Homo sapiens: one gene and its partners. Changing the gene in region 5 together with the main gene of any one other region gives a genetic interaction. Each region holds a gene or a part of one and is shown on either strand. Other genes may lie near its edges. The genes, in order: KCTD10, AURKA, HUS1, ZNHIT6, COPS4, SKIC8 and CTNNBL1.

What was found.
Region 1: changes in COPS4 (region 5) and KCTD10 together harm fitness more than expected from each alone (negative genetic interaction), as found in Homo sapiens cells (one large-scale study listed by BioGRID).
Region 2: changes in COPS4 (region 5) and AURKA together harm fitness more than expected from each alone (negative genetic interaction), as found in Homo sapiens cells (one large-scale study listed by BioGRID).
Region 3: changes in COPS4 (region 5) and HUS1 together harm fitness more than expected from each alone (negative genetic interaction), as found in Homo sapiens cells (one large-scale study listed by BioGRID).
Region 4: changes in COPS4 (region 5) and ZNHIT6 together harm fitness less than expected from each alone (positive genetic interaction), as found in Homo sapiens cells (one large-scale study listed by BioGRID).
Region 6: changes in COPS4 (region 5) and SKIC8 together harm fitness more than expected from each alone (negative genetic interaction), as found in Homo sapiens cells (one large-scale study listed by BioGRID).
Region 7: changes in COPS4 (region 5) and CTNNBL1 together harm fitness more than expected from each alone (negative genetic interaction), as found in Homo sapiens cells (one large-scale study listed by BioGRID).

What each region holds. Positions count from the first base shown.
Region 1 is NC_000012.12:109,452,729-109,457,347, forward strand, and holds part of KCTD10 (BTB/POZ domain-containing adapter for CUL3-mediated RhoA degradation protein 3), read right to left. Parts: intron 3,586-4,619; coding exon 3,390-3,585; intron 927-3,389; coding exon of another isoform or gene 759-926; exon of another isoform or gene 1-758. UniProt on the Homo sapiens protein: Substrate-specific adapter of a BCR (BTB-CUL3-RBX1) E3 ubiquitin-protein ligase complex. The BCR(BACURD3) E3 ubiquitin ligase complex mediates the ubiquitination of target proteins, leading to their degradation by the proteasome.
Region 2 is NC_000020.11:56,368,890-56,372,409, forward strand, and holds the end of AURKA (aurora kinase A), read right to left. Parts: intron 1,771-3,520; coding exon 1,596-1,770; intron 1,452-1,595; coding exon 1,269-1,451; 3' UTR 501-1,268; downstream 1-500. UniProt on the Homo sapiens protein: Mitotic serine/threonine kinase that contributes to the regulation of cell cycle progression.
Region 3 is NC_000007.14:47,972,385-47,977,003, reverse strand, and holds part of HUS1 (checkpoint protein HUS1), read left to right. Parts: intron 1-166; coding exon 167-274; intron 275-1,316; coding exon 1,317-1,391; intron 1,392-4,619. UniProt on the Homo sapiens protein: Component of the 9-1-1 cell-cycle checkpoint response complex that plays a major role in DNA repair. The 9-1-1 complex is recruited to DNA lesion upon damage by the RAD17-replication factor C (RFC) clamp loader complex.
Region 4 is NC_000001.11:85,701,307-85,705,925, forward strand, and holds part of ZNHIT6 (box C/D snoRNA protein 1), read right to left. Parts: intron 955-4,619; coding exon 851-954; intron 1-850. UniProt on the Homo sapiens protein: Required for box C/D snoRNAs accumulation involved in snoRNA processing, snoRNA transport to the nucleolus and ribosome biogenesis.
Region 5 is NC_000004.12:83,041,211-83,045,829, reverse strand, and holds part of COPS4 (COP9 signalosome complex subunit 4), read right to left. Parts: intron 205-4,619; coding exon 125-204; intron 1-124. UniProt on the Homo sapiens protein: Component of the COP9 signalosome complex (CSN), a complex involved in various cellular and developmental processes.
Region 6 is NC_000015.10:78,285,551-78,290,106, forward strand, and holds part of SKIC8 (superkiller complex protein 8), read right to left. Parts: intron 4,550-4,556; coding exon 4,401-4,549; intron 4,163-4,400; coding exon 4,069-4,162; intron 2,833-4,068; coding exon 2,739-2,832; intron 584-2,738; coding exon 491-583; intron 175-490; coding exon of another isoform or gene 111-174; exon of another isoform or gene 1-110. UniProt on the Homo sapiens protein: Component of the PAF1 complex (PAF1C) which has multiple functions during transcription by RNA polymerase II and is implicated in regulation of development and maintenance of embryonic stem cell pluripotency.
Region 7 is NC_000020.11:37,777,504-37,782,122, forward strand, and holds part of CTNNBL1 (beta-catenin-like protein 1), read left to right. Parts: intron 1-150; coding exon 151-209; intron 210-1,683; coding exon 1,684-1,832; intron 1,833-4,619. UniProt on the Homo sapiens protein: Component of the PRP19-CDC5L complex that forms an integral part of the spliceosome and is required for activating pre-mRNA splicing.

The DNA of each region.
Region 1 (4,619 bases), on a different chromosome or scaffold from region 5:
GCCTGAAACCCTGAAATGGCACCAGGACAGAAGACCTCCAGAAGGTCTCTAGTGGCCAGGGAGGCCAACAGAGTCTAACAGGCAGAGAGGCTGGGAGGAAATCCTGGTTTTCTTTCCTTTTTTTTTAAAAGATATGGGATCTGGCTAATTAAGCTTTAAAATTTTAAGACTTCTCATTTTTAGAGCTTAATAAGGAGCAAGGGGATTTAGAGACCACATGGTCTGATCCCAACTGTTTCTTGATTCACAGACCAGGTTCAGGAGTGGCGTGTTCTTGTGTTTGTGAAGCTGGTTAGGGGCAGAGCCAGGACGGGAGTCCAAGGGCCTCTTTCTTTTCTCTTTTTTGTTTTGAGAGGGAGTGTTGCTCTGTCACCCAGGCTGGAGTGCAGTGGCACAATCATAGCTCACTGCAGCCTTGAACGCCTAGGCTCAAATGATTCTCCCACCTCAGCCTCCCCAAGTAGTTGAGACTATAGGCATGCATCACCATGCCCAACTAACTTTTTGTAGAGATGAGTGTGTTGCTATGTTGCCCAGGCTGGTCTTGAACTACTGGGCTTAAATGATTCTCCCACCTCAGCCTCCCAAGTAGTTTAGACTACAGGCACACACCACCATGCCCAGCTATTTTTTAAAAAATTTTTGGTAGAGACAGGGGTGTTGCTATGTTGCCCAGGCTGGTCTTAAACTCCTGGACTCAAGCAATCCTTCTGCTTTGGCCTCCCAAAGTGCGGGATTACAGGTGTGAGCCACCATGCTCAGTCCTTTTCTTTATTTTCTTGCACCCAGACCTGAGCATTCCTGTGGCAGCAACCAGAGACTGCAGGAGTCAAAACTCTGAGGGAAGGAACCTTCTTTTCTGATGAGAAGAGCTGTGGTCTCAGCAGGATTGGGAGAATCTGGTTGCTTTTTCTATCTTCATGCTCCTGGGCCCAAAATACAGGCATGGTTACAGAAAGTGGGTGGCAAAGGGGGAATAACCAAACCCCCAGCTTTCTGGCTGGCCGATCAGAGAAGGGGACTCCAGGGAAGCTTAGAGAACTGCGGAGAAGAGGAGCTTGAGAAAGCAGCCTGTGAAGTTGTATATGAACTCCTAGACCCACACCCAGCTGCAAGATCTACCCCTAAACTGCATACGCAGACTGAAAGAACTGAATGCTGCAAGAGATACTGCCCAGGACAGACGGGCCACAGCATGGCACACAGCTAGGACAGATTTGAAGGCTTTGAAAATCAAACTGTCACCGCAACTACAAACTACAGAAGGCTGGTTAGAGCTTGCAGCCTGAGCCCAACTGGGTCAATTGCCTGCTAAAACAAAAACATCAATGTTCTCCCTAGGATTTAAACAAGGCCTGGAGTCCTTTAACAATATTCAAAATGTTTAGGATACAATCAAAATTTCTCAATACACAAGAACCAAGAAATTCTCAACTCCTGTGGGAAATAACTCACAGATGCTAGCGCCAAGGTGACACAAGGTTTTGGAATTACCTGACAAAGACCTGGCAGCAGCTATTATTAACCTGTTCCAGTAAGTAAGGGCCAATGCTCTTAGAGCAAATGGAAACATAGGGAGTCTCAGCAAGGAGACAGAAAAACCAAATGAGCACTTGAGAACTGACAAATACAATAACCAACAACCTCAAACAAAAACACAACTTACCAGCAGGGCTCAATAACAGAGTGGAGATGAGACAGGAGAGGAGAGTGATATGGGCTGGGTGCAGTGGCTCATGCCTGTAATCCCAACACTTTGGGAGGCCAAGGTAGAAGGACCACTTGAGGCCAGGAGGTCGAGACCAGCCTGGGCAACATAGTGAAAGCCAGTCCCTACAAAAATAAATAAAATGAGCCAGGTGTAGTAGCATGCACCTGTGGACCCAGCTACTCAGGAGGCTGAGGCAGGAGGATCACTTGAGCCCAGGAGTTCAAGGCTGCATTGAGCTATGATTGTGTCACTGTACTCAAGCCTGGGTGACAGAGCAACACTCTCTCTCAAAACAAAGAGAAAAGAAAGAGGCCCTTGGCTTCCCATCCTGGCTCTGCCACTAACTAGCTTTACAAACACAAGAACATGCCACTCCTGAACCTGTCTGCTAATCTAGAAACAGTTGGGATCAGACCATGTGGTCTCTAAATCCCCTTGTTCCTTATTAAGCTCTAAAAATGAGAAGTCTTAATCTTTTAAAGCTTAATCAATATGGTGACTCTCCTCTTACTACCCAAGGGCAGAGGCAGCCCAGGTATATTTTTAAAAAATCAAACCATGACAGAATGGGGGTCTAATTACAGGAAGAATTCACAGCCCTGAAAAAAAAAAAACAGTTCACAGGAGAAAAGGGGCATGATGTCTTGCCAATGTGGAGAGAGAGGCAGATGATTCTGGTTCACCCCCTGCCCCCGGGATCTTTGAAAGCAAAAAGAACCTCAGTGTTTAGCACTTCTTGGCTACCTTAAGAACAATATCTATTCTTTTAGGATAGATTTTGAATGCTTAGGAATAAAATATGTTGTCAAATTCATCCTGTGAGTGCTGGGGAGGAGGAGTAGATACAGACTGAGTGAGAGTGCCCAAGCTGATGGCCCTTGACGTGGCGTGATGGCACAGGGGAAATCACCACACTATAATTCTGTGTATGGCTTCAATTTTCAATAATAAGTTAAAAAAAAAAAAGACTCTGGTTTCTACTTTGTGATGTGATGATTTCTTCTCATTTGCTTTTTGTTCGAGGTCAGCTACAGAATCATGCAGAACTGTGGCCCCAAAAGCTGCAGGGACAATAGTAACCTGGGTAAGTGACCTACAGGCTCAGGCTCTTAAGACTCCTGTGCAAGGGTGACAAGAGGCATGACCGTCGGCCCACAGCAGACCTGCTGCATGTCACTGGATAGCCAGAATTCCCTTAGACACGTTAAAGAAATGACAGAGTGTATAATGTGAATTAAAAGTTTAAAAAGACAGAAAACCCAATTGCAGAGCCCCAAAAGGGCAGGCAAATTCAATTAAGGGGGGGCCAGATCTCTAGCAGCACTATGCAGAGCAATCCAGCTTTGTGGAACGGCATGGTGGGAGAAGTCAAAGGATAGGTCAAGCCTACTGGTTTGGAGAGGATGATATAAAAACACATCCCCAGAGTCCAGCCCAGTCAGGGAGTCAAGCATGCTTGGAAGGAAGCCAGCAAGGTAGGGAGCTAAAGGAATGCCAGATGAACCCTACATTTGGCTCCTTGCAGGGCCTAAAAGATAAATATTTTAAGGATGAGCAATCACAAGGCAAGCAAAGCATTTTAAAAGCATTTCCCTCTGTATTGGGCTCAAGTGAAAGGAAGTTCTATAGGTGTGTGTTTCAGAACAGCCACTCCAAACTGTCCTCTCGAGGCTCTTACCTTGGTCTGTTTCTTCTCAGTGGCATAGACGATGGAGGTACAACAGACTTCAGCAATCTTCCGGCCCTGACCATAAAAGGACCAGCAGCAGATTTCATCCCCAATAACATCCTTTATGAACAGGACCCTTCCGTTAAAGCGCAGAGACAGCTTATCAAACAGTTCAATGTTTTTCAACATATTGTCGTCAGAATTGCTGCAAAAGAGCATTTGATACGGTGACCACAAGCTGGTAAAAACTGCCATCATTTGCTGGGCCCTTCTACACGCAGGGCCCTACTGAGCCCACTTTCTCCACTACCTCATTTCAACCTCACAATAATCCCATGACAAAGGCACTCCAATCTCCATCACTCAAGAAGGAAAGTGAGGATCAGAGAAATTAGGTAATTGCTCAAGGCTGAACCTAATAAATGGCAGACACGCCCCCCAAAAGACAGCCCTGGCCCCTAAGCCTGAGTGCTCCTAACCATTGTGCTTGAGTGACAGCCTCTGGGCACAGGCACCAGGTGGAGGAGAGCACCTCACCGAGCCCCAAGAGGAGCAGAATGGCACTGCCCAAGGGAGACTCTATATCCTAGGTCTTTTTAAAGATCTTGAGTAACCTGATTAAATCCTCCCTGCATCCCTCAAGTTCCTGAGTTAGAGCCACATGTTTTCAAGGGCCAAATGGCATTCTAGAAACCTGCATATATTGCTGGTGGGAATGTAAAATGGTGCAGCCACTTTAGAAAACAGTTTGGCAGGTCCTCGAATGATTAAACATAGAATTACCACATGACCCAGCAATTCTGTTCCCAGAGAAATGAAAACGTAAGTCCACATAGAGACTTTGCATGAATGTTCATAACAGCATTACACACAATAGCCAAAAAGTGCAAACAACCCAAATGTCCATCAACTGATGAATGGGTAAAGAAAATGTGGTCTACACTGTGGAATATTATTCTGCCATAAAAAGGAATGAAGTATTGATTCATGCTACAACATGGATAAACCTTGAAAACCTCTTAGGTAATCTCATTATGCTGAATGAAGGAATCTGGTCACAAAAGGCCATATATTATGCAATTCCATTCACATAAAAATGTCCAGAACAGGCAAATTCATCAAGACAGAAAACAGATTAGTGGTTACCTAGGGCTGTGGGGTTGGGGAAGCAATGGTTGAGGGAAAATGGGGAGTGACTGCTAACGAATAGAGGGTTTCTTTTCAGGCAGTGAAAAAGTT
Region 2 (3,520 bases), on a different chromosome or scaffold from region 5:
GTCAGTCACGTGATAATAACTATAGCTTGGGAGGGTGGCACATGAACTATTTGGGAAGGTCAAAGTCAGTTCAGCTCAAGACTATGAGAACCAGAAGCCCCTTTGTCCCAAGGGGGCTGGCAGCTGCAGTTTTACTGAGTCATGTTTTTAAGTTTCTCTATATTGGCCACTTTGTTATGACATATCCTGACATACCTGCTGTCCAGTTTCTTGCACTGAGCATTGGCCATGCAAGCAGATTTCTCTACTAGCTCTAAGTTCAACACTTCTACTTTTCCTTCATCACAGTCACTTTCACCGTATCTTTAGTCGATGGACAGATGACAAAGATATGACAAATATATAAACAATATATATAATGAAGTATTAGGAGTACACCCAACAGGAGAGACCAGAAGAGGCAGGACTAGATGAGGGCGAGACCTGCTCCTCTCAGCCCCTGCTCATTTCCAGGCCAACAATGAACAGATGGTGGAAAGAATTACACAGCACTCCACACAGACATAGATACTTATTTATTTGCATATTTAAAGTTTACACACATGCTATGACTCCAATGTTTTAAAAAAATAAGCCCTTAACAGCTCTGAGACACATGGCCTCTTCTGTATCCCAAGCAAATCCCTAAATGGAGGTAGAGCACGTGTTCCTATTTTTCACACTCTCATATGGGAGATAAGTGGTTAAGGAGGACTAGAAACCCAATCAGGCCTACCGGGGTGCCGGACAGACACACAGCATTCCTAAAGGAATGCCACCAGAGAAAAAATACAAGTCTGTACATATATCTTTATTTTCATACTTAAAAAGAATCACATACTCATTCCAACAGCTTTACCAGGCTTCGCCAACCCAATAAGTTACACACTCACTCAGGTACTAGGAAGGTTATTGCACAGCTCCTTAACTGATCGGGGTCAGGGCAGAGTGGTCACTTTCCCCACAGCCAGGCTCTGGATTTGCCTCCTGTGAAGACACCATGCCTAGCACAGGCTGACGGGGCGGCTGCAGTCGAACCTTGCCTCCAGATTATGAACCAGTATAAGTAGCACAATTCTCGTGGCTACTTTCACTTCAGAGTGTCATGTTTATTGATGTGGAGCTTTCTGAATAGGGAGGTTAAGGCACACCTGCTGAGTAAAACAAATATTTCTTGTGTAGCGTTCTAGATTGAGGGCAGCAGTCAATGGTAAAATAAACTTCAGTAGCATGTTCCTGTCAGGTTATATGGCAGCCCTGGCTCAAGGATTTCTCCCCCTGCACGATTCCTAAGACTGTTTGCTAGCTGATTCTTTGTTTTGGCAATTTGATGGTTTTGATGAATTTGCTGTGATCCAGGGGTGTTCAAGTACTTCTCTGAGCATTGGCCTCTGGCTGGGATTATGCTTCAACAGTCTTGAAATGAGGTCCCTGGCTCCCTCTGTTACAAAGTCAGGGAATGTGAATTCAACCTGGAGTACAACAAATGATAAAATATCACAAAACACAGGTTAGAGAGATCAAATAGTATAGATGTTCGGATCTTGGCCTGCAGTTCAGGCTGATAAGGAAAGAATTCCAGCAGATGTGCTGGGTCCTTTTCAGTTGCGTCTTACCCGTGATATTCTTTTGTAGGTCTCTTGGTATGTGTTTGCCTCAAAAGGAGGCTTCCCAACTAAAAATTCATAGCAAAGAACTCCAAGGCTCCAGAGATCCACCTTCTCATCATGCATCCGACCTTCAATCATTTCAGGGGGCAGGTAGTCCAGGGTGCCACAGAGAGTGGTCCTCCTGAAAACGGAGGGAGGCTCAGGTTGATGTGCTTCTCGTTTTATGATCACAACAGCTGCTAACAATCATTAAAGAGTCCACTAACACTGAGGTCTTCCCCTGGGCCAGATCCTGTGCCCTAGGAAGTAGCTACTATTATAAATTCCCATAGGAAACAGATGAAGCGAGGTGTGTAAGGTCACACAGCTAGCCATCAGGCTTAACCCCAAATCTGTCCAACTCCAGAACCTCCCTGAATAATCTAGAATGTAAGAAACTGAATGTATCACTACCATATAAAAGCTGCCATGCAAAGTTCTCTGTAAATACGATTTGGATTCTACATCTGCATGTGGATATTACAGATATGCTAAGAATCTTAAAAGCCTGGTCGCAATGACAATACACTAGAAACTGTCCCACTGTAACAGCACTGGGGTGGAGATGTAGACACATGCTGCCTTGTGATAGATACTTGGTACGAGTGATGCTGAAATTTTGAGGGTGGCCTATGAAGTACTCTTGCCAAAAATATTTAACCTGGCTGGGTGCAGTGGCTCATGCCTGTAATGCCAGCACTTTGGGAGGCCGAGGGAGGCGGATCACGAGGTCAGGAGATCGAGACCATCCTGGCTAACATGGTGAAACGCCGTATCTACTAAAAATACAAAAAATTAGCCGGGTGTGGTGGTGTGCGCCTGTAGTCCTAGCTACTCAGGAGGCTGAGGCAGAAGAATGGCGTGAACCCGGGAGGCGAGCTTGTAGTGAGCCAAGATCGCACCACTGCACTCCAGCCTGGGTGACAGAGCGAGACTCTGTCTCAAAAAAAAAAAAAAATTTTCTTAACCTGAATCTCTTCAGGACCTGAGACCTACATTCCAGTTTTCAGCAAATACGGGGAATAAAGGTCCAAGTTAAGTGGCAACACAATCAGAAAAGTCCTCTTTAAAGTGGGAGACTGGTCTGGCTTTAGACCACAGAGACAATCCAACCACAGAGACAGTCCAACCACAGAGACAGTCCAACCACAGAGACAATCCAACCACATAGACAGTCCAATACAAAGCATGGGCTTTGGTTGAGTTCTGATTTTACAAACCAGCTATAAGATGTCATGGACAATAGGAGAAATCTGAATGTGGACTAAATATTAGATACTGACAATGCTGTTAATTTTCTTAGGAGTGATCATGGTTCTAGTTATATAGGAGAATATCCTTATTTAGGAAATGCATTCTATTATAGTGCTTAAGGTTGAAGCATCATGATGTTTGCAACGTATTTTCAAGTGTTCACTAAAAAAGCAGATGCAGCCCTTCTGACTAAATGGGAAAAACTGCTGAACGTAGGCACTGTATAGACAGGTATGCCATCAACTACCAATTCCGCATTTTTATCGGTTTAGGTTTTTTTAACGAAGGTTGGAAAAAAGCTGGGAACAGCAGACAGCAAGCCAGAACAGTCTGTGTGGGTTCGTGTTGCTTTGTTATCAGCTGCTCTTCACCATGGAGGCTTACGTGGTCACAGCCCTGGTGCTGTGTTCAGCCAGGCCTGGCACCCACTGAGCACACAAACAGTCACTCACCACTGAATTGTGACGTAGGATTAAGAAGCTACCACTCTGGTCATCTAACCCCTCCATCAGCACCGACGGACTGAATCGGGGGTTCTCAAACTGAGGCAATAACCAGGAAATGATGATGATTAACATCTGGGATTTGGAGTGAAGTGACTATCGGTTATGTAAGTAATCTTTTCAAAAAGCAAGAAG
Region 3 (4,619 bases), on a different chromosome or scaffold from region 5:
AAATATTGGCACCATCAATATTGGTCGAATGGCTTTTGAGTGAATAAACTGACAGCATTCCACTTAGATTTGGTATTTCAACTTTTTTGTCCCGGGTCTTCGGGTTTGTTTTGTTGTTGCTTAATATTAACAACATAAAAATATTTTTAAATTCTTTTCTTGGCAGTTATCTATGTCAAGCAGTAGCCGCATTGTGACCCATGACATCCCCATAAAGGTGATTCCTAGGAAATTGTGGAAGGACTTACAAGAACCGGTGGTCCCAGATCCTGATGTAGGTGATGCCTGCAGTCCTGCTGTACACCCCACATTAAATGGCATGACTTGAATTCTCTAGTTTTAGTTGTAGTCTTGCAGTATATTTTATTTTTAAAGGATACTTAACGAAAACATTAGATTATTTGCCTTTTGTTATTTACATAAAGCATCTTAAAAATGTTGCATATGATAGAAATGTCATGCCATCCTATATGTAGAAAATGTCTCGCTCAGTAACATCACTTAAAACACAAATGATACTTTTGGAGGACAATTAGTATTTATTAGTATTCTTGGCCTTAGACACCAATTTGGGTTTCACAGGACTTGATCTTTTCCTCAGCCGGTCAGGAGCGATATCTGGATGTGCACGAAAGCCAAGAAGAGAAGAATTTCATGGCTTAGGGCTAACATGGGGTAACGGTCATGCCGATGGTTAACCCTAGAGCTCCTGAAAGTAAAGATGATGCCAAAGGGCCCATTTCCTCTTGCTCACAATTTGTTTAAGAAGAAAGTACAGAAATATGCTGGGTAAAATAATTACTTGACTTTTACTAGATGGCACCTACACTGATTTTGAAAAAGCCTGTGTTTTATAGAGCACTCTTGGTAACAGTCTCAGATGTGATGCAGTGACTGTCTGCCATGTTTTTGTACAGAGCATGGAAAAGGCCCTTGAATCATAGGTGTAAATGTCCCTTAGAGGAGGGCCTCCTGCTGATTGCCTGAGTTATATTCCCCCTGGACCAATATAGGGGCATCTCAGCTGAAGTACCCTATTCCTTCTTGAGCCAAAAGAATGCCCACAGGGACATGGTTGCTGAGGTAACCAGAGGCAGGCATTCCATTCTTTAATTTTGCTTGAGCATCCTTGAGTTAGTGAAATAGAATTGGTTTTCTTTTTATATTTTTAAAAGAACTTTATTCAGAAAATTGTAAAATAGTATCCCATAGTTTTTGAGCATGCATGTGTTCTAGAGTTAGTTATGGGGCCCTTGTCATTACTAGAGTATATTAATATTTTTAATACTTGTGCTTTTTTCTCATTGGTTTTGTAGGTTAGTATTTATTTACCAGTCTTGAAGACTATGAAGAGTGTTGTGGAAAAAATGAAAAACATCAGCAATCACCTTGTAAGTCACAACTTCTTTAGAAAAGAACTCTGAAGTATTTGGTGGGACGGCGTGGGTTCTCCAGCTCACCCTGCAGCAGTCCATGCAGGTGGGCACCTCCTAACCGAGTTCCCACTTATGAGGACCTGGCCTGGTGCTGAGAACCTGCAGATTGCTAGTTGGATTTAGAAACCTATTCCAATACTTTTCAACTCTAATTCTTTGAGGAAAGCTTTTATATTTGCCTTTAATCTGCCTGTTTTTCCTCTTATATTTTGTATGAAACATTGTATCTTTCTTTTTTTTTTTTTTTTTTGAGACAGAGTCTCACTCTGTCGCCCAGGCTGGAGTGCAATGGCGCCATCTCACCTCACTGTAAGCTCCGCCTCCCGGGTTCATGCCATTCTCCCACCTCAGCCTCCCGAGTAGCTGGGACTACAGGCGCCTGCCACCATGCCTGGCTAATTTTTTGTTTCGTATTTTTAGTACAGACGGGGTTTCACCGTGTTAGCCAGGATGGTCTCGATCTCCTGACCTCGTGGTCCGCCCGCCTAGGCCTCCCAAAGTACTGGGATTACAGGCGTGAGCCACCGCGCCCGGCTGGAACATTGTATCTTTTACCTGCTAACGTGCCCGTATTTTTCTGTGAGTCACTGATATGACTGACAGTGAGTTTGGAGTTTCCTGTCTGCGTGCCAAGTGTCTTTCAGTGAGCCAGGGACAAAGATATGCCACACCATAGCAGCCTTTATTCCAAGCACACCTCACACCAAGCTAGGGGGCACTTTTATATTTCTGTTTATTTTCTGTTTATTTTGTGGAAGTCTCCTATGGCCACATGGCTCGAAATGTTACAGTGTGTGACAGTGGTGGGAAATGTGTAGGTTATCCTCATTCATACCTGGGGTTATTGTGAATTCTTCCTTCACTCACTGCCCCTCCCTCCTCCCCCTGCTCCCTCCTATCCTGCTCCAAAAAACACCCTTGGTTATGTCCCTGAATCTTCTAAAAACCACTGTCCACCTGATGAAGCATAAACTTTTGATCTTGACAGTGTACCAGGCCACCTTTATAGCCACATCTCTGTTGTATTGCCACACCCTCCCTGCAGAACGAGGCTGGGTTCTGGTATTCCCCCACAATGCCTCTTCTTTTTTGTTCAGTTTCTTTGCCATTTGACACATGGCTTCTTCTCTCCATCTCCCTGGAAGGCACTTAGCCATTCTCATGCTTCATCACAGACCTTTCCCCACCACCCCTCTGGAAGCTCCTCCATGGAGCTGAGCTGTCCAGTGTACATGGTAAATCACCTGCTAAGATCTCTGAAGGTCTCGTGAACCACCAGCTTCTTGATAAAGGAAACCCCATCTTAATCATCTTTGTGTCCCAGCTGCCCAGTGTGGGATTGCCACTCAGTAGGCAGCAATAAGTGTTGCATGGATCTGGAACAAAATTTAGCTTCAAGAGGTCTTTGAAATCACAAAAGTATTTTGAAGCCTAGAAAATGTACATTTGACTGTTTTTTTCTAGAGTTCTGCACACTAAGAGCAATGCTGTCATTGGACCTGGGTAACTCAAAGCTTTTCCTTCATAACTTAATCTATAAAATCTGTTTTCCATGAAGCAGTGTGCACTGTGCTGACGTTGGTGTCACCTGTGACTGCAGTGATGCTGATCCAGTTGTCAGGCTGGCTTCATCTGGGGATACCCTGGGGACTTCCAGAGAAATTCAGAGAGGCCCAGGAGAGAAAAGACAGGGCTGTTAATTGAAGGATGGCATTTGTTTGTTCTTTCTGTTCAATGAAAATGAGTCAGCAAGGTAGAGAGGTAGAAGGGTAGCTTAGAATCATCAGAGGTGTTTTGTTTTCTCTTTTTTGGAGTTTAAAAAAACATAGAAATATTGTGGAGAGGCTACTACGATCTGGAATTACTAAATGGAAAGTTATCAAGTTACTGTAGCAAAGTACATAATGAGGTCTTCCTGGGTATCCAGAATTCTGTATCTGAATATTACAGGCAGTAGAATTAAGGAAAATGGGTAGACTTAACACACTAAAAATGCCCACCTTCCCATTAGAGATGCCCAGTTACTTCCTTTCATTAAATGCGAGGTGTGACTGATGGGGTGGGTTGTATGTGACTCATGCAGGAGCAGAAAAAGAAGCAAGAACTGGAGGGAATTGACATCATGTTCTAAGACATTGCTTCTAAGTTCTACCATGCGTGTGAATCCCCTGGAATCTGGTTAAAGTGCAGGTTCTGATTTGGGAGGTCTGAGCTGGAGCCTGAGGCTCTGTTTCTGACCAGCTCCTGGGAGATGTCGATGCTGCCTGTCTTCAGACCACATCATGTAGCAGTACTTTGTGATGTGTGCCTGTATTACTCCGTTTTCACGCTGCTAAAAAGATATTACCTGAGACCAGGTAATTTATAAACAAAAGAGGTTTAATTGACTCACAGTCCTGTATAGCTGAGGAGGCCTCAGGAAACTTACAGTCATGACAGAAGGCAAAGGGGAAGCAAGGCACGTCTTAACATGGCAGCTGGAGAGAGAAGAACACAGGAAAAACTGCCATTTTTAAAACCATCAGATCTCATGAGAACTCCCTCACTATCAAGAGAACAGCATGGGAAAAGCTGCCCCCATGATCCAGTCACCTACCACCAGGCCCCTTCTCAGCACTTGGGGATTACAATTCGAGATGAGATTTGGGTGGGGTTGCTGAGCCAAAACAAACCACATCATTGCCATACTATATTGTACTTCAAATGTTATCTGAGAAACGGCTCTGCAGGGTCACCTAATGATAGAAACCAGAGTCTATGTTTAGGAGTCATGATATGGAAGAGGGGAGTCATTGGAGCCACATACCTGGGTTCAGCTCCAGGCTGCGCTGTGCAGTGAGTACCCTAGTGCTGGATACTACCCCAAATGGGGATAACAGTGCAGCTATGACAGGGGCTTCGTCAGTTTTTAAAAATTTAGAGATAATTTTTACTAGGTGCCCAGTATAGTCAGCATTCTATAAACAATAGTTGACTATTTTAAGGAAATCATTGAAAGATCTTACCCTGATACTTAAGAAATCAAGTGTGTTGTTGTGTATAATATCCCAAATAACTGAATCTTAAAATAGACATGAGTGACCAGTGTTCAGAGAATTAGTTGTTTGTTAGTTTCTTCAGTAAGTATTGACTTAAGGCCACCATGTGCTAGGCACCAGGTGTTAATGGTTAGGAGGGAGTTGG
Region 4 (4,619 bases), on a different chromosome or scaffold from region 5:
AGAAAGGAAGTTGATTTGTTCAAGGCCCCACAGTTACTAAGAGGCTGAAAAGGGAGGGACTCCCTCAAGTTTTTAAAAATTCTAAATCCAAAATCTTGACTTCTGAAAGGTATTATCTGATAATTTAGTTGGCTACTTAAAGAACTTTGGGATCCTGTTCTCTTCTGTACTCTTGGGGCCTTTTCAACCCAACATTTTCAGACAGCAGCAAACTAATCTCTGTTATATTATCTGTACTCAAGAGTTCAAAGTCCCCTTCTTCTACATTGACAGCTTTTAATTGAAATCTTATTTGGAAACCCAGTGGAGAAAGAAAATAAAAGCAGAGCTGCCTTGATTAAAACAGTACAGGCGTCCTGTTTTTACTCGTTTTGTCCTGGAAGCCCCTGAAATACTTTCTTGGTATCTTAGTTCTCAAAGAAACAGTTTATTTCTAATGTATGAGAGTGTTCCAGGGCGCTGCTACTCAAAATATGTTTCTCAAACAATGAGCATCATTGAGGAGCTTGTTAGAAATGCCCAATATCAAACTCCAACCCAGGCCTACTGAAAAATCACAACAAGCATACTTAACAAGATGCCTAGGTGACTGGTATGCACATTAATGTTTGAGAAGCTTCTCAAATGATATGAAGACACACACACACACACACACACACGCACACACTGCAAACCCAAATTTTTATTAGAGTTACATGACATACAATTACTACAGTTATCTTGTCATGGACCAATAACAAACAGTTTACAGAACCACACTTGGGGTAGCAATGCTCTATAGCAACCAAACCTTAAAGAATGATCCTGATCAAATCAGAATACCTGATATACTAAAAAGTTAGAAACTTACTTCTTATCAAAAAAGGTTGAATTCTCCTTCCTCTTGGTGAATCCATTGGGTAGAAGTTTTAAGTTAATACCTTGCCTCCGGGCACGATTTTTCATAAAGTACATCTAACAACAAAAACCAAACAGACAAATTAATTTTTAAATTCCTTAAATTTAAAAAGTGAGTAAAACAATGTTCAATAATAGTTAAGATTTACTGAGAACCTAAGTGTTACAACAGCTCTAAGCAGTAATCTCATGTAATCTTCACCATGATACTATGAGAATAGGTACTATCATCTCCATTTTAGCAATAAAAATTAGTGAGATCCCAACATCATACAGCTATCCCAGAGAGATAGAACCTGTATTCAAACCCTGGTCTGTCTAATTCCAGAGCTTGTGTTTCTAACCATATGTTCTGTGAGCCAAAGAAGAATTTAATGGAGATTAAACAAACAAAAACACAGGTCATTTGGCAATCACGGGGGCTACCTACACAATTCTTGATTTCTTTTACCGATGGTTTTACCAGTTAGCTGTATATATATATCACTGATTTTATTACTAGACAGCTCACTCAAGGGAAGAGCCAAGGCATTGCCTAGTACAAGGCCTAGCTTAAAGTAACCACTGTTGTGGGAAGCACAAAATGGGATATGAGAACATTCTGGCTCTGACATGTGTTATTACATTGACCACCTGGGTTGATTAAGCTAAACTGGGCAATTCCAGAGTTATGAAGGAAGTAATACCAGATTTTTATTAAGTCAAGGAAGAAGAAAGATCACTCAAATAAGAGGCAAAATATAAACGCAAGTTTTTTGTTAAGTGAATAGGGATCTAGAATTTGCAATGTAAACAGTCAGAATCAAGTCCATAAGCCAAGGAAAGGATGGGTCAGCTATCATTGGCTAAGTAGGAAACTGTTTTAAGAAATTACATGTAATTTTATAATTTAGAGGACTTTAGTTTCAGTAATGGTAGTGATAATTATAATAATTCTAATAGCAGTGACCAACCCTCCTAATATACCTTCAGGATAAGGGTGAACCAGAAACAATCTCTACTTTTAGAGCAAGCTAGGAAACTTGTATGGTTACACTGAAACAGAGGAAAAAAGAAAAAAAATCCATTAGCAGTTATGGCTATGGACCATCCCTTGCTTAGATTTGCAATTATTTTGCCTTGAAAACAGCACTGAATAGCCATACTCTAGAAAAAAAGTGGGAGGACTTAATCAGATAACAAGTTTCAGTAAAAAACCACAATAATTCAGAGAGCATAGTATTGGTGCAGGATATACCAGTAGGCCAACAGAATGGAAAAGACAAGGCCACAAAATGACCCAAGCATATAGGGATGCTGATATATGACAAAGGTGGTCCTACAGAGCAATAGGGAAAGGATGAACTTTCCAATAAATGGTGCTGGGAAAAGTGGATTATCTATATGAAAAATTAAATGGGAACTCCTCTGTATATGATACCAAAAATCAATTCCAGTTAAAGACATAAGTGTAAAACACAACAGTATAAAGCTTTTAGGCAATAACTATAAAAGAATAACTTCCTAACTTCAAGGTAGAGATGGATTTCTTTATAAACATATAAACCTACTAACTATAAAGGAAACAAATGATAAATTTGACTACATTAAAACTAAGAACATCCATTCACCACAAGACACTATAAAATGAAAAGACAAGACAAAGACTAGAAGAAGGTATTTATAACATACAACCAACTTGCACTAGCATCCAAGAAATACCAAGAATTCTCACAAACCAGTAAGAAAAATAAAGCTGACCAATGAAAAGATGAGCAAAAGACTTGAACAGGCACTGCATAAAAGAGGAAATCCAAATGGCCAATAAAGTATTTGAAAGGTGGTTCAATCTCATCAGGAATTAAAGAACTGCACATTTAAAACCACAATAAAATTACAAAGCCAACAGATTGACAAAAATTTTTAAAGTCTTACCAAACTAAGTATTGGCGAGAATATGACAATAGGTACATTCATACACTATTGGTGAGAGTGTAAACTAGTACAATCACTTTGGAAAATGTTTTGGTAACATCTAGGCAAATTGAAGATATGCATACCACACAACAAAGCAATTCTATTCCCAGGTATAAACCCTAGAAACACATGTTCACACACATACTATAATTCATAGACAAAAGTAGTGGCATTGTTTCTAAACTGTTTTTTATTCTTACAGAAAATCCAAAATCCATTAAAAAAATGCGTAAACAAATTGTGGTACAGTCCTAAGATAGAAAAAAATATAAAGAAATGAGAAAAGATCAGGGAAGGGCATAAAAGGGTGGCATGGAACTTCTGGGAAGCCAGTAATGTTCTAATTCTAGATTGGGGTGGTAGTTAAATGAATATTCATTTTATAATTATTCATTATACTGTGTATTTCCATTTTGTGATGTTTAGAAAATATACTTGCTATATTTCACAATTTAAAAAAAAATTGTAAAGTAATTTATCTTTAAGTAGAATTTTAATTATGCCTAATTAAGTTTGAGGAAAAATAAGAGTTGCTATATGAATAATTTTCTTTCAGATATGTGTAATGTAATTATGTCTGTACCAATAATACCAATAAAATAAGGTGTTTAAAAGGTATTAAAATTCTGCAACTCCAATACTAAAATGAACACAATTCCAGGATACGATTTAATCACACCATAAACAAATTTCTACAACACCAGTTGCCAAATATTCCAAATATGTAAGCTTTAATTTTGCATAGTATTTAAGGAATTAAAAAAGGAATGCAAGAGTATGAAAATTAAGTGTATTAGAATAGCAAGTCTTGTTAGCTCTTCCTTCAAAATCGCAATCTAATCCCTTCCCAATAATTCAAACAGTACACCCAAGCCACTATTATCTCACAAGGATCATGGGAAGAGCTGCATAATTGGTCTCCCTGCTTCCAATCTTCCATTCTTGCCCCGCTAAAGTTCACAAAGTGCAAGAGTGGTTTTTCAAAAGGCAAATTTATGTTCAAAACCCTTCCATGGTTTCCATTTGCACTTAGAATTAGAAACCCTCACCAGTTTCTTTTCTTTTTTCTTTTGAGACAGAGTCTCACTCTGTTGCCCAGGCTGGAGTGTAGTGGCGCAATCATGGCTCACTGCAGCCTTGACCTTCCTGGGCTCTGGTGATCCTCCCACCTCAGCTTCTCAAGTTGCTGGGAGTACAGGGGCACGCCACCACGCCTGGCTAATTTTTGTATTGTTTTATAGAGACGGGTTTTCACCATGTTGCCCAGGCTGGTCTTGAACTCCTGAGCTCAAGGAATGCTCTGGCCTCAGCCTCCCAAAGTGTTTGGATTACAGGCATGAGCCACTGCACCCAACTCCTCACCAGTTTCTCTAACTTCATTTTCAATACTCTCCTCCTCACTCACTATGCTTCAGTTACCTTGCAAATCTTTTAATTCCTCAAACCAGACATCCTTGTTTCTGACTCAGGTCTTTCCTTTTACTTTTGTCCCTACCTGGGATAATCTGCCTCCAAATGTTCACATGACAGCCTCTTTCTCAGCACTCAGATCACTGCTTACACATCATCTCTTTGAGAAGCTTCTCCTGACCACTGTATCGAAAATAGTACCCTGACAATCTCTCCCCAACAAAGACCATTTTCATTCTCTCTTTAATCTCTTGAGCCTTCTTTATTTTCTATATGAACTTAACTCTATCTGAAATTACATTTGTTCCTCTACTTATCTCCTATATCTCCCACTAAATACAACTCCACGAGGGGAC
Region 5 (4,619 bases):
TCTAAAATCAATCAATCTCAATGCATATTTAATATTGATAATTTGATACAAAACAAGGCTTGAGAGAACTTTAAAGTCCTAGCTCAGTAATACAAGGCAAGCATGAAATTTCCATTTCACTTACTTGCTTCCACAAAAGCTTTCAAAGCTTCTAGTTGTTCTGCTCCAGATAACTGAATGGCTTTTTCCAGGATCTGACGATACCTACAACAATACCAAATGAAAATAATGTTCTGAGGGTACTATATTTTCTAATGCAAACTTTGATGTGTATTTATTCATTTCTACATACCTTGGTTTCTTTCATAGTACTATAGTTTGTGGTTTTCTTTATAGTATACCACAGATTTTTTTTTAAGTTTCTAGTCTATCACAAGAGATATTAAATCTATAATTATATAAGGTACCACTTCATCTAGTTTTCAGTATAGTATACCAGAATTTTTTAAGTTTTCAAGCTCATCACAAGAAAGAATGAATCTATAATTCTGTTACTGAATCTAAGGTGTCACTTTTTCTTGAAGGTTTTATTTTTGAATTTAAACTACAAAGTCAATTTCCTTTCAAATGCCTTAAAAGATAAGCTATATTTCCTTCAACTGTGCAATACATAGACACACAAAAACATTATTTGAGGTGACCTGAATCTTTTCCTCTTACAGACGTAATGTATGTAGGGTCACCAGCAATAGGATAATGTTGACCAGGCAACGAAACCAAACATTAAAGACTGAATGTCTTAGTCTGTACAAAATAAACTTCGCCAAGCCAAATGCACTGATAGAATACCATTTATGCTGTCAGACAGTACCTATTTATTCTTTATTTGCATTCAGATCTAATAACTATTCTACCTAATATCTGTGACCACACAAGCTCCACGAGGACAGGAATTCTTGTGTTTTGTTCTCTGCTATGTAGACAATTATCTCAATTCTTGGCACATCATAAGCACTCAAATATTCAACGGTATTAGTAATGTTTTATTTCTTAACGAGTGGTTAGTATATGAGTGTTATACTATTCTTTTGTTGTTGTTGTTGTTGTTGTTTTTGAAGACGGAGTCTCGCTCTGTCACCCAGGCTGGAGTGCAGTGGCGCAATCTTGGCTCACTGCAACCTCCACCTCCCAGGTTCAAGCGATTCTCCTGCCTCAGCCTCCTGAGTAGCTGGGATTACAGGCATGCGCCACCACGCCTGGCTAATTTTTGTATTTTTAGTAAAGATGGGGTTTCACCATGTGGTCAGGCTGGTCTCAAACTCCCGACCTCATGATCCGCCCACCTCAGCCTCCCAAAGTGCTGGGATTACAGGCGTTAGCCACCGTGCCCGGCCTATACTAATCTTTATCTCTTTTGTCTTAATCATTTTTTTTTTTTTTTTTTTGAGATGGAGTCTTGCTCTGTCACCCAGGCTGGAGTGCACTGGCGCAATCTCGGCTCACTGCAACCTCCGCCTCCCAGGTTCAAGCAATTCTCCTGCCTCAGCCTCCAGAGTAGCGAGGACTACAGGCATGCACCACCAAGTGCGGCTAATTTTTGTATTTTTGGTAGAGATGGGGTTTCCGCATGTTGGCCAGGCTGGTCTTGAACTCCTGACCTCAGGTGATCCGCCCACCTCGGGCTCCCACAGTGCTGGGATTACAGGCGTGAGCCACCGCGCCCAGCCAATTGTAATATTTTTTAAAAGCACTAAATACATTTTACAAACCTCATAGCATTGCAATTATTCGGAAAGTCATCCAGAATAGAGTTACGAAATAAATATACAAAAATAGAACCTGAACTCATTCAGATTTATGACTTTTATTTTGTAGGGCACACCCTCAAGCTACCACTCAGCATTACTGACTCTCAACTCATACAAAATTCTCACAACCTTGGTTATCTGATTTCTCAAAACCACAATGAATCAAAGTGACTTTAAGAAAGCAGATATACGGATAGAAAAGATAGCAAATTCCAAAAGAAGAAATAAATTATTCTAAGAAAGCAAGGAAATATTAAGTTTTTAGAAAATTATATTTTCAATATTGCTAAGTTTGAGGGTCCTTAAAAGATAAATTACTTTATGGCCCTGGGCATGCTTTCAGATAAGTTATACATTCAATGGTTTGTTATTTTTTATTTTTTTCATATTTAATTAAATCAAGGGTTATTGCTAAGATCTCTTACTTTTATATCCTCTTAGATTATTTTATACTAACAACATTATATTCAAAGGTAATAGTGTCTCACTTATATAAATTTGCTAATTAACCTAAGTTGTTTTGTGGTTGTTATGGTTTTTTTTTTTTTTTTTTTTTTTTTTTTGAGACAGGGTCTCACTCTGTCGCCCAGGCTAGAGTGCAGTGACATGATCATAGCTCACTGTAACCTCCAATTCCTGGGCTCAAACAATCCTCCTGCTTCTGCCTCCTGAGTAGCTAGGACTACAGGCATGTGCCACGACCCCTGGTTAACTGTTCTTTTCTTTTTGTAGAGATGGGGTCTCACTACATTGCCCAAACTGGTCTCCAACTTCTGGACTCAAGCAATCCTCCCAACTCAGCCTCCCCAAGTGCTGGGATTACAGGCTTGAGCCACTGTGCCTGGCCTAACCTAAGTTTTAACACATAGTTTCATAATCAATCAACTAATCTGTATTGGGAATAGGAAGAAAAAATGAAAATAAACCAACCTAAAAAGTGATCAAAGTTTTATACTCATCAAATTATATAACTTATAGAGGCCTTAGAAATTGTGTACATAAACTCCCAATTTTATAAATGAATAAATTGAGGGCCAGTCGCAGTGGCTCATGCCTGTAATCCTACCACTTTGGGAGGCCAAAGAAAGTAGATCACTTGAGTCCAGGAGTTCAAGACCAGCCTGGGCAATGTGGTGAAACCTCATCTCTACAAAAAAAAAAAAAAAATACAAAAATTGGTTGGGCGTGGTGGCTCATGCCTGTAATCCCAGCACTTTGGGAGGCCAAGGCAGTCAGATGGCTTGATCTCAGGAGTTCGAGACCAGTCTGAGCAACATAGTAAAACCTCATCTCTACCAAAAATATAAAAAAATTAGCCAGGCATTGTGGCACACACCTGTGGTGCCAGCTACTTGGGAGGCTGAGGGGGGAGGATTGCCTGAGCCCAGGAGGTGGAGGTTGCAGTGAGCTGAGATCTTGCCACTGCAACTCCAACCTGGGCAACAGAGTGATATCTCATCTCAAAAATAAAAATTTTAAAAATAAAAAAAAATTACAAAAATTAGCCAGCTGTGGTGGCGTGTGCCTGGACAGAGCAAGACCTTGTCTCAAAAAAAAAAAAAAATTAATTAATTAAAAAAAGTGAGGTACAGCACTGTGGCTACATTACATGCTCCCTTGCTTCTCTAATATGTAAATTCTAGTATCTAACAACAGAGATTACTTTTTCAGAATAACATAAAATGACTAACAAACCTGTTTTAAACCAGGAACTTAAACAGAAATTTAATACTGCCATATAAAATCACCCCAAGGTGTTAATTGAGTCCTTAGGCATTTTAAGATGCTATATGAGATTCTGTGTATGATACTAAAAAGTTTTTAAATGACCTTTGTATTTGAAGATCATATGGCTGAGAAGACAAAGGGGAAGATTAAAAATAAAAAGTTAATATGTCAAGTGTTAAATTACAATATGGTCAGGTGCGGTGGCTCACGCCTGTAATCCCAGCACTTTGGGAGGCTGAGGTGGGCCAATCACTTGAGGTCAAGAGTTCGAGACCAGCCTGGCCAACATGGTGAAACCTCATCTCTACTAAAAATACAAAAATTAGCCAGGTGTGGTGGCACGTGCCTGTAATCTCAGCTACTCGGGAGGCTGAGGCACGAGAATCACTTGAACCTGGGAGGCAGAGGTTGCAGTGAGCTGAGATCCCGCTGCTGCACTTCAGCCTGGGTGACAGAGCGAAATTCTATCTCAAAAAAAAAAAAAAGTATTAAATTACAATAATACAAAAACAAAAGTTATGATAAAACTGAACAATATAAGCAATATGATAAATGAAGAGGTAATATATTAACTCAAAAGAGAGTAAGGCCAGGTGAAGTGGCTCACACCTGCAATCCCAGCACTTTGGGAGGCCAAGGAAGACGATCGCTTGAGGCCAGGAGTTCAAGACCAGCCTGGCCAACACGGAGAAACCCCATCTCTACTAAAAATACAAAAATTAGCCGAGTGTGATGGTGCACAACTGTAAGTCCCAGCTACACGGGAGGCTGAGGCAGGAAAATCACTTGAACCCAGGAGGTGGAGGCTGCAGTGAGCCACTGTACTCCAGCCTGTGACAGAGTGAGAGTAAAACAAAAATGGACTAGATTTGTCAAATAAGGCTTCGTAGATAATAATAGCTTTTTATATGAGTACTCAGTATACAAAGAGAAATGTGACTGATATGGAGAATGTGACAAGTGCCAAATATTTTCTTCCTTAAAAAAATTTGGCCGGGCGCAGTGGCTCACGCCTGTAATCTCAGCACTTTGGGAGGCTGAGGTGGGCGGATCACCTGAGGTCAGGAGTTCAAGACCAGCCTGCCCAACATGGTGAAACTCTGTCTCTACTAAAAACACAAAAATTAGCCGGGCGTGGTGGCG
Region 6 (4,556 bases), on a different chromosome or scaffold from region 5:
TGTTCTCCAGGAGTCTCAGACACAGCTACCTATTTCCAGATGGGAGGGAGGCCTGTTAAAGCTTCAAAACCAAGGCTCGCAGGAGGCCTCTAAAGCACTGTGCAATGCCTTCAAGTTGTCCATCTCCTGCTTTCCAACTGTCTTGGCCATCCCAGGCCTGACCAACACTGGGATCTATAAACAACATTTTACAAACATTTACATATTTTAAGTTACCATTGGAACACAAGTCTACCTTAGAGTCACTTTGGTAGAAGCCTCAATTTATAATGAAAAAACTAAGAGTTTTACTGTTTAAAAGGATTACTTGTTGACTTTTGTTCCAGCTAAGGTCAACTAACATCACTAAATAAAAATTTTAAGAACTGCAGAAAAGAAAGGCTAACTGAATAAAAAAGGGTCAAACATCTTTAAATGTTAAGGCAATCTATACAAGAAGACTGCTCTCATCTCCCCAGCATTTTAGAAACTGCTAAGAATCATTAAGTACCTGGAAACAAAGTGAGTGTCATCAGGACAGAATGCAACGTTCAGCACCCAGGAGGCATGGCCGCTCAGCGTGCCAGCCAAATTGGCATGTTGTCTGAAATGGGAAAGTTTCAAACAAAATTGAGATGTTAATTTCTACAGTATAATCACTGAAGTGGAAAGTATATTATTAACTCTGCCAATAAGCTGGACCAAATCTGCTATCCTTATAATGACCATGAATACTATATCAAAAATTCCTCTTTCAATGAAGTAGCTTCATGCATTAGAGACAAATTTTAATAGTAGCATTAACCCATAATGTGTTGACACCACCAAAAGCCAAGAATAAAATCCTTCACAAGCAAAGAGCTGAAGCTCAAAATGAACAAAGAACCACACTACAGAGGCTTCGCAAGCCAACCCCTCAGATGAGGAAATTGAGAACCAACGGGGCAAGGAAGCCATCTGAGGAGAAGGGCAGGTTCAGACTCCTGCCTGCACCAGCAGCCTTTCCGTATGGGGCCAGTGCTCCCAGTCCAAGGAAAGTGTCAAGATGTATTCATTATGACAGATGCAGCTTGGAGAGACCAGTTTAAACCTAATCAAGAACAAGACAGGTCTAATTACAACAGCTATTTTCACTTTTTTAATAAAAATGAAACCCAACCACCTCTGGCAGGAGAACCACCATAAGACCTAACTGAGGTCAGCAATTTTACCCCTAAACACAGACCTCAGCAGAGTGGAGCAGACCTCAGTTAGGGGCTAGGGGGCAGGTGGGATACAGTGGGACCATGGGAGGGTAAAAAGTCCTGGGCCTTAGTAAAAAGATCAGTAGTTGATAGGGGCTCAAGGCAGGAGGAAGGGATGATTTGGTAGAGCAGGGGATTTTTAGGGCAGTGAAACTATTCTGCGTGACACTGTAGTTAGGGGTGGCTACACATAATTTTGTCAAAACTCATAGAATGTACAACACAAAGAGTAAACCCTAATGTAAACTACAGACTTTAATTAATAATAATGCATCAATATTGGGTGAAAAAAACATTCTTGGGTCTTCATTCAGTACCACCTCCTTGGGCAAATCAACCACCTCAGCTTGGGTTTCTCATGTGCAAAATGGGGACACTAATCTGTGCTGCTACCTCATTGGTTGCTGGGAGGATCAATAAAACAGTGGCAATAGAAATCATAAAGTCACAAATGTAAGGAACTGCTGCATTTATACTGCCTCTGCCACTAACAGGCAAGTATAACTCTATAGAGACATCTTCCCCTCTGGGCTACAGCACCCTCACTCAGTTACAGTTAAAAACTGCAGTTAGAATTCTATGTCTAGCTGATAACCTTTTGCCAGAAAAAACTGCATTTTAACCAGAAGTGGGCTAGAAGGAGCAGTGTTTCTACTGTGAGGTTTAAACTCCCAAGCAACTATCACAGGCCCCTGAAAGGACACACATGGATGGTCAGGGTTGCAGTACATGCAGGTGGAGGAGGTCTTGGCACCCATGGCTAAGGTTGGAGTGTGATATGTACATGCAGTGGATTAGAATGCCATGTTCGGGAGCAATGAGCCAGAGGCATGCCTGGCAGTGAGAGCTGACCATAGCACCGAGTCATAGTATCAAGAACACAGATCCAACACATTACAGGGGATACCTCAGTGGGGAATAGGAGTCAGGACTAAAAATGATGGGGGAAAAGAAGAAGACATAGGGGTCCGCACAGATTTACAATGACGGCTGTGAATGAAAGAGGATGATTAACTTGCTTCTATACTCGCAGTCAAGGGCCAAAACCAAAAACGCTCCCATCTAGGCCTGTAGCAGGGCGGCTTATAAACTGACTGCTCCCTAACTAGGGCAGAGGCATGTCTGCTAGAACAGCCCTACCCTTGAAAATGGATGCTCTAATTTCTTCCTGTCCCCAGGGGCCAGCTACAGCCCATGGCTCCATTTCCTCATCTGTATATTACTTACCTATCCCAAAGAATTTGAAATCAGTAAGCTCACAAAAATCAGGCTGCCTGAGAAAAAGTAGCAAGTATCTGATCCTACCAGGGAACCCATGCACATCCTCCTCCAAGCAGCCCTTGAGGACACACACTAAAAATGGGCGCTGAACGGGGGAGGACCGCCTGGGGAGTCAAGGTGTCTGATGTGACTTGAGCACAGGTCTTTACTAGGGCTCCTCCCTAGGGCTCCTTGTAACAATAAAGGGACAAGATGGGCATCAGTAGTAAGGGAGATGCCTTTAAGGTAACTTACACATCATAGATCTTGATGTAGCCATCATCTGAAGCAGTGACAAGGAGCTGGGAGTCCGGGGAAAAGGTCAAGGAGCGAATGGGCATGGCATGGCCTGAAATTCATAAAGGCCCTTGTTAATCTGGTGAACCACTGCCTCCTCACTCAGCTTCCCACTGACAATGCCCCTTTTAATGATTATGAGCCACTGAGTTGAAATGCTCAGGTGCTTCAGGCAGAAAAGCAAGAGTTCTGATTGGGCCTTTCCTCTTAATGTTCTCAAAACATCCACATAACCCCAGTATCTCCTCCCAGAGCCATTTCTCCTTAGTTCCCTTCCCTGCCCTCAGCATACATTGCTTTAAATAACTTTTCTACTACAAATATGGCCACACAAGGATATATACATTGCTCCTGATTTGTAAGGTTGAACAAATTAAGGTATTATTTCCCTATCAAATCCTTTATTATAGTATAAAGGATAAACTATAGCAATGTGAGGACGTAATAAATTCACTTGATTAGAATTCAAAACAGCACAACAGTACGCATAATAAAGTCTCCCTCCAACCTACCCCTGTTCTTTAGCTACCCAGTCCTCCTTTCCAGAGGCCACCGGTGTGGACAGTGGGCACAATACTTTCATCCACCTTCAAATTATCAACAAAAAGTTGTTTCCAATCACAAAGTTCATCAGAATCCAAAATAACAGAAATGAGACATTCATATAGCAAATATATATTAACACACACATACATAATGTGATAGATTACGATATAATAAATAAAAAGTAAGTCTGTTCACCCAAACAAGCACTTAACACTGTTACAAGAACTAGTATGTCTAGGTTAAATCTATAGTGACAGGCCAGGTATGGTGGCTCATGTCTGTAATCCCAGCACTTTGGGAGGCCAAAGCAGGAAGAAATCTTGAAGCCAGGAGTTAGAGACCAGTCTGGGAAACAGCAAGACCCCATCTCCTCAAAAATTTTAAAAACTAGCCAGACATCGTGGTGTGCACCTGTAGTCCCAGCTACCCAGGAGGCTGAGGTGGGACGATCCCTTGAGCCCAGGAGTTCAAGGTTACAGTGAGCTATGATCACACCACTGCACTCCAGCCTGGGAGCGAGACCCTGTCTCTAAAAGAAAACAAACAAACAAACAAAAAAACAAAAAAACAAAAAAAACTATAGTGACAAGACTAAAACCTGGAGGCATTTCAGTTTTCCAATTGAGATTGATATTTTGTAAATCTAATGCCCATTTGCCATTTAATGGCATTTCAATGAAAGAATAATTCTTCCTTTGTGATTTGATAACCCAGTTTGTCAAAATAAGATGATGATATATACCTTCCAGGGTATGCAGAAGTTTTCCAGTTGCAATATCAAAAATATTGATGATTCCATCTATGGCTCCACTGGCTAGGTATTTCCCATCAGGACTCTGTTCAGAGAACATATGGAGAAATTAGCACTTTCAGACTCCGTGTTGTTAAGCTGTCCCTACCAAACACAAGCAAACCTCCTGCTATCTACAGGTCTAACTGGCTACTTGGCAAACCACACCAGTGAGACAGCAGCTGCCTGACCAGACCAAGACAGAATCTGTGGCAAGGACTGCAACAGGCTGGAAGGGTAAACTGAAAGAATCAGAAGGAGAACAGAGAGCAATGTTTCCTTACATATGCAATACTAAGAATGAATTTTCCTCTCGTGTCCAAAGAATATTCCTTTTTCCCACTTTCCACACCAAAAATGTTCACTTTCCCGACATGAGTTCCTGTGGCCAGATACTGGGAATCAGGAGAAAAGGCCAAAGTCCAGGCATCCACTGAACA
Region 7 (4,619 bases), on a different chromosome or scaffold from region 5:
CATCCCCTTGCTCTCCCTCTCACTCCCTGTGCTGCTTTTGTACTCTGTCAAGCTGTATTGATTTTGTTTGCTGATGTATCAGTGTTAGACGGCTGTAAAATCTGACAGTTAGGTTCATTTTTTTTCTTCCTCTATTTTTTTCCCCTTTAGAAAACAGGGAATTGCTTGGGGAGCTGGATGGAATCGATGTGCTTCTTCAGCAGTTATCCGTGAGTAATTCTTATGCTTCCTGTCTGCTGTAAGATACATGGTCTGCTTTGAATGGGAGGTGGAGCTGGAAACTGTGGGAAGGAATAAGCCATGTGCTGCAAGCCATATGGAGCATGTTGGCAGGTTTGAGGGTTATACGGAGGGACATGGTTTGCCTCCTTTTCTTAGTCATTTGCTCTTTATGACCAGACATCACTGTGTATCAGTTCTGAACTTTCTTCATCTTCTGATATGATATTGTCAACTCAAAAAAGATGTGCCTCATGCTTAAGTGTGTATGTTCTGGGCCAAGCATACCAAATTATTTTCATTTGACCCACTGCCAAGATTATTCACCAACCTTCCTTTCAATCTGCTGTGAAAATGGAGTATGTTCATTTAGGATCTGAATAAGCTCAAGGAGTACAAGTTCCACTGCAGTGGGGTGGGGGTCAAGGGGAGGATAGGGGAGGATGTGGTGCTGAAGGCTGGAGTGAGAACTTGGAAACTGCCATTTTCTCACTGTAAGAAATGTAAATCCAGTTGAAATGTTATTCTGCTGGCATTCTGAAAATACTGTTAAGATTTCCTCTTACAAGTTTTAGCTGTGTTATTCTAAAAACAGGACTGAAAATAGATCATTTGGATAAAATCTTAAGAGTGTTGGGAGAGTCTGAGATGTCAGTTTGCATACAGCTTCCATCTTGGTGCCAGCAGCCTGAGTGTCTTGGCCTCCACCCCAAAAATAGAGCTTTGAAATGTGAATCTGTTTCCAGTTCTGGGAAGGTGCTTAGTCCTTTTCCTGTGAGATTATTGATCTTCTTGTAGTAGACTGTATGGGTATGCATATACAGTTTAAAGGCTTCTCTTAACATGCCTTACATCTCTGGCAAAAAGAAAACTAATGCTGTAAGCCCTTCCCATGAATTAAAGCCCCAGCTCCCCTGTGAGGGAATTCAGTAGCCTTGGTTGTCAGGAAATGCTTCCTTATATTGAGCCACGATTCAGCCCTCTGGATTGTGGTTGCTTTTAGAAGGGAAAGAAATGAGATATGGTTGGGTTGGGCAAGTGGAGGGCTTTGAGGGGAGTTGGCAAAGTTGTTTCTCATCCTGGATAATGATTTCAGGGGTGTTCACTTCATTTAGTTTTATATGTCCTTTATGGAGTTTTTCTGTATCTGTGTTATATTTCACGATAAAAAGATTTTGTTTTTTATTGGGTTTTGGTTTTTAAAAAAATCTGCTTGCCTGGAACTGTCAATTACTGATGGACCCAGTGGTCAGTAGAGTGTTTTGGCTTTTTTTTTTGCATGTATTTAATATATGTGAATCATTTAGTTTCTCTAAAATGGAAACTGATGAGAATTTTGTTTGGTGAGCTTCTGTTTCCTCAGTCGTAGAGTTATGACCCACAGGTTTTAGGAATTGTTGGATGGAGGCTCATGAAAAGACATTCTCTTATAGCTCTGTGCTTTGTGCTGTTTTTGCTTGACAGGTGTTTAAAAGACACAATCCCAGCACGGCTGAGGAGCAGGAGATGATGGAGAATCTGTTTGATTCCCTCTGCTCCTGTCTAATGCTTAGTTCCAATCGTGAGCGCTTCCTGAAGGGCGAGGGTCTTCAGCTGATGAATCTCATGCTCAGGTATGTTTCGAATGCCCTAGTTCTCCCACCTTTTTTGCCTGACTTTTCACTGTTAGCCTGAATTCAAGAGCATGTAGCTATGATCATTTATTCTGTTGGGTTTCCTAGACTTTACCCTGAAGAGTAAAGTCTTCAGGCATGGGGGGATGTGTTTGTATAGGTATGTGGTCTTTCCTAAAGTTAGAGTAGATGAATAAAAAGTATATTGTGTTCTGTTTGTGCCCTACTGTGGTGGTTGCTAATACGTCCACTCCATTGAAGGACATTGGTGTTTTTCCTCTCCTTCCCATAGTGTGTTAGTTTTGGGGAAATCTAGCCATTACTTCTAAACTTGGACTAATTTTCTGTATATATCACATAGACCTATCTATGCCATATGTTTGTATTTTTATTGAAAGCAGCGTATCATTCATATTTTTCACTCCTCATTCAGTAATGAGTTGTACATGTGCTGTATGCCTAGCTTAGGAAATATGAAAACGTGCAAGACAGTTCTAGAAACTTTTATTTATAGTACTTTCCTTGTGTGTCTTATTATTTATACGCTAATTCCTGAAAGTGGATCTTATATTAGTTTCACAGTTATTTTATAGAATCCTAAAGTTAGAAGCAAAAAGGGGAGAGGAAGCTTATGTTGATAACTCTTGAGACCCTGTCTAGGAAGGGGAGTAGAGAAGTGTGTGGGGGAAGGCTGAGGGGATAACCAGACTGTGGTATAGGGTCAAGGGACTTAAAAAAAAAAATCGAGCATGTTTATGTGGTTGGAAGATTCTAGTCATTATGAATTGTGCCCTACAGAGGAGCAAGTTGAGATTTAAAAAAAAAAAAAACAAGAAAAAAAGAAATGGAGCCAGAGTCTGCTGTCTTAAAACTTCAAGTATACTGAAAGTTCTGTTGAACTAAGATATTTCTTTGGAAAGGTTTTTCATAAATGTGATATATATTTGTTAAATAGAATTTAGAATACTAACATATAAAACTGCTATTAAAACATTGACAAGGTACTATGTTAAGTACTGGGCATACACAGAAATACCTAAGACAGAATTTCTGTCTCCACAAAGTTAGGAAAACAGTTCTGTGAGCTAAACACAGCCTGTCTTTGGGTGTATATTTTCTTCTAGTCTTTTTTTCTATAATTTTTAACAACTTTTTAAGCCTGCCACACATAGGATTTTCTGTATTGCTACATTTCAGACATAAGATGCTGTTTCCCATGCTGTGAATAATCTTCATGAGAGTTTTCAGTAACTGCATCATGGCCTCTAAGGGACTGTAGCTTACTTAGTATTCTTCTGTTGTTGGCATTGAGGATATTTCCAATGTTTTGCCGTTATAACAAATTCTACAGTGACCATTTTTGTGTTTAAAATGATGTTAGGATTATCCAGGTACAGTAAGTCCTCACTTAACATCATCAGTAACATTCTTGGAAACCATAACTTTAAGCGAAATGATGTATAATGAAACCAGTTTTTCTGATCATTGTTATAACGGTGTTATTTGAGGATCTGACCTCCTATATCCCGTTTTACTTAAAGTTGCCATTTCCAAGTCTATCTATGATGTTAAGTGATGACTTACTGTGTATATTTCTAAAATATATTATCTTTAAAAGGCTTCTGGGGGGCTGGAGGCACAGTAGACCTCTTCATTTGTCCAGTGTGTACCAGACCTTGCATTGACCAAAAGTCTTCCTTTGAGGAATTGCTTTTAAAAACAATTTTTAAAAAAATGCAGAGAGGAGCATGAGAAATTACTCAGAGGCCTTTTGTGTTTAGCTGATTTTTGCTAGCTTTACTCTCTTGAGTCTTTTGTTTATCTCCCTTACCCTTCTAATTGCTTGTCCTTTTGTTGAAATGACCCACCTTCTCTCAAGTAAATAGCATAAATAGAAGATACATTTGGCTTCTTGGATCTTCTAACCTTAACACAATGTTCTGAAGGGACTTTTCCTTAAGCTTCTTAAAGGTCTGAATTGCCAGTGTCTTTGGTTGGTTGAGTGCAAATATGAAGTGATATATTTCTGCAGCATATGGCTAGGTATTGCATAGCAGAGGGGAGCTGAATAAATAACCAGAAATATGGATTATTCAAACAGGAATGCTGAGATTCAGGGAGGCTAATTAAAGGAGAGCTCCAAAAAACTTAGAAACTGTACCTCTCTAGATCTCCTAACTTCATTTTTGAATGCTGAAGTTGCTGTTACATTCATTCTTTGGCATTAATTAGCTATATTAGCAGATTCAGCATTTCCTTTTTTCTCATTCCCATACTCTTTGTTCTGTGTTATTTTTCTTCAGACTCCCAAATGGAAAGTTTAATTGGGATGGAATTTTTTTTCCATACTATAGTCACCCTTTCTGATCTTCTAGTAAGAGCTGCCAGGTGGCTCTTTGTCTAGAGAGAGCCTATTCAAGACTATGAAGCTGTAACACTAGAAGTTCAGGAAAGTTTCTGTGGTTCCATTGCCCCTAAATATAGATCTTTACTTTGACTCAGTCATTCATCAGACAGTTGTGAAATGCCCACATGGAGAGGTGGCAGTATGGAGCAGGGTGGAAGAATGGGCCTGGGACTTGTAAGTGTGGGTTTGGAACATGCTCTTTTACTTACTAGCTCTGGATATTTGGTGAGTTACTTTAACCTTTGTGACCTTCTCACCCTCAGTTTTTCATCTGAAAACCGGCACTAATAATACCAAATTTACAGGTATTTTGGCAGAATTAAACTATATAAAGTATCTAGGAGAATTCTACAGTTGCAAAACACTGCTAAGGTACTATG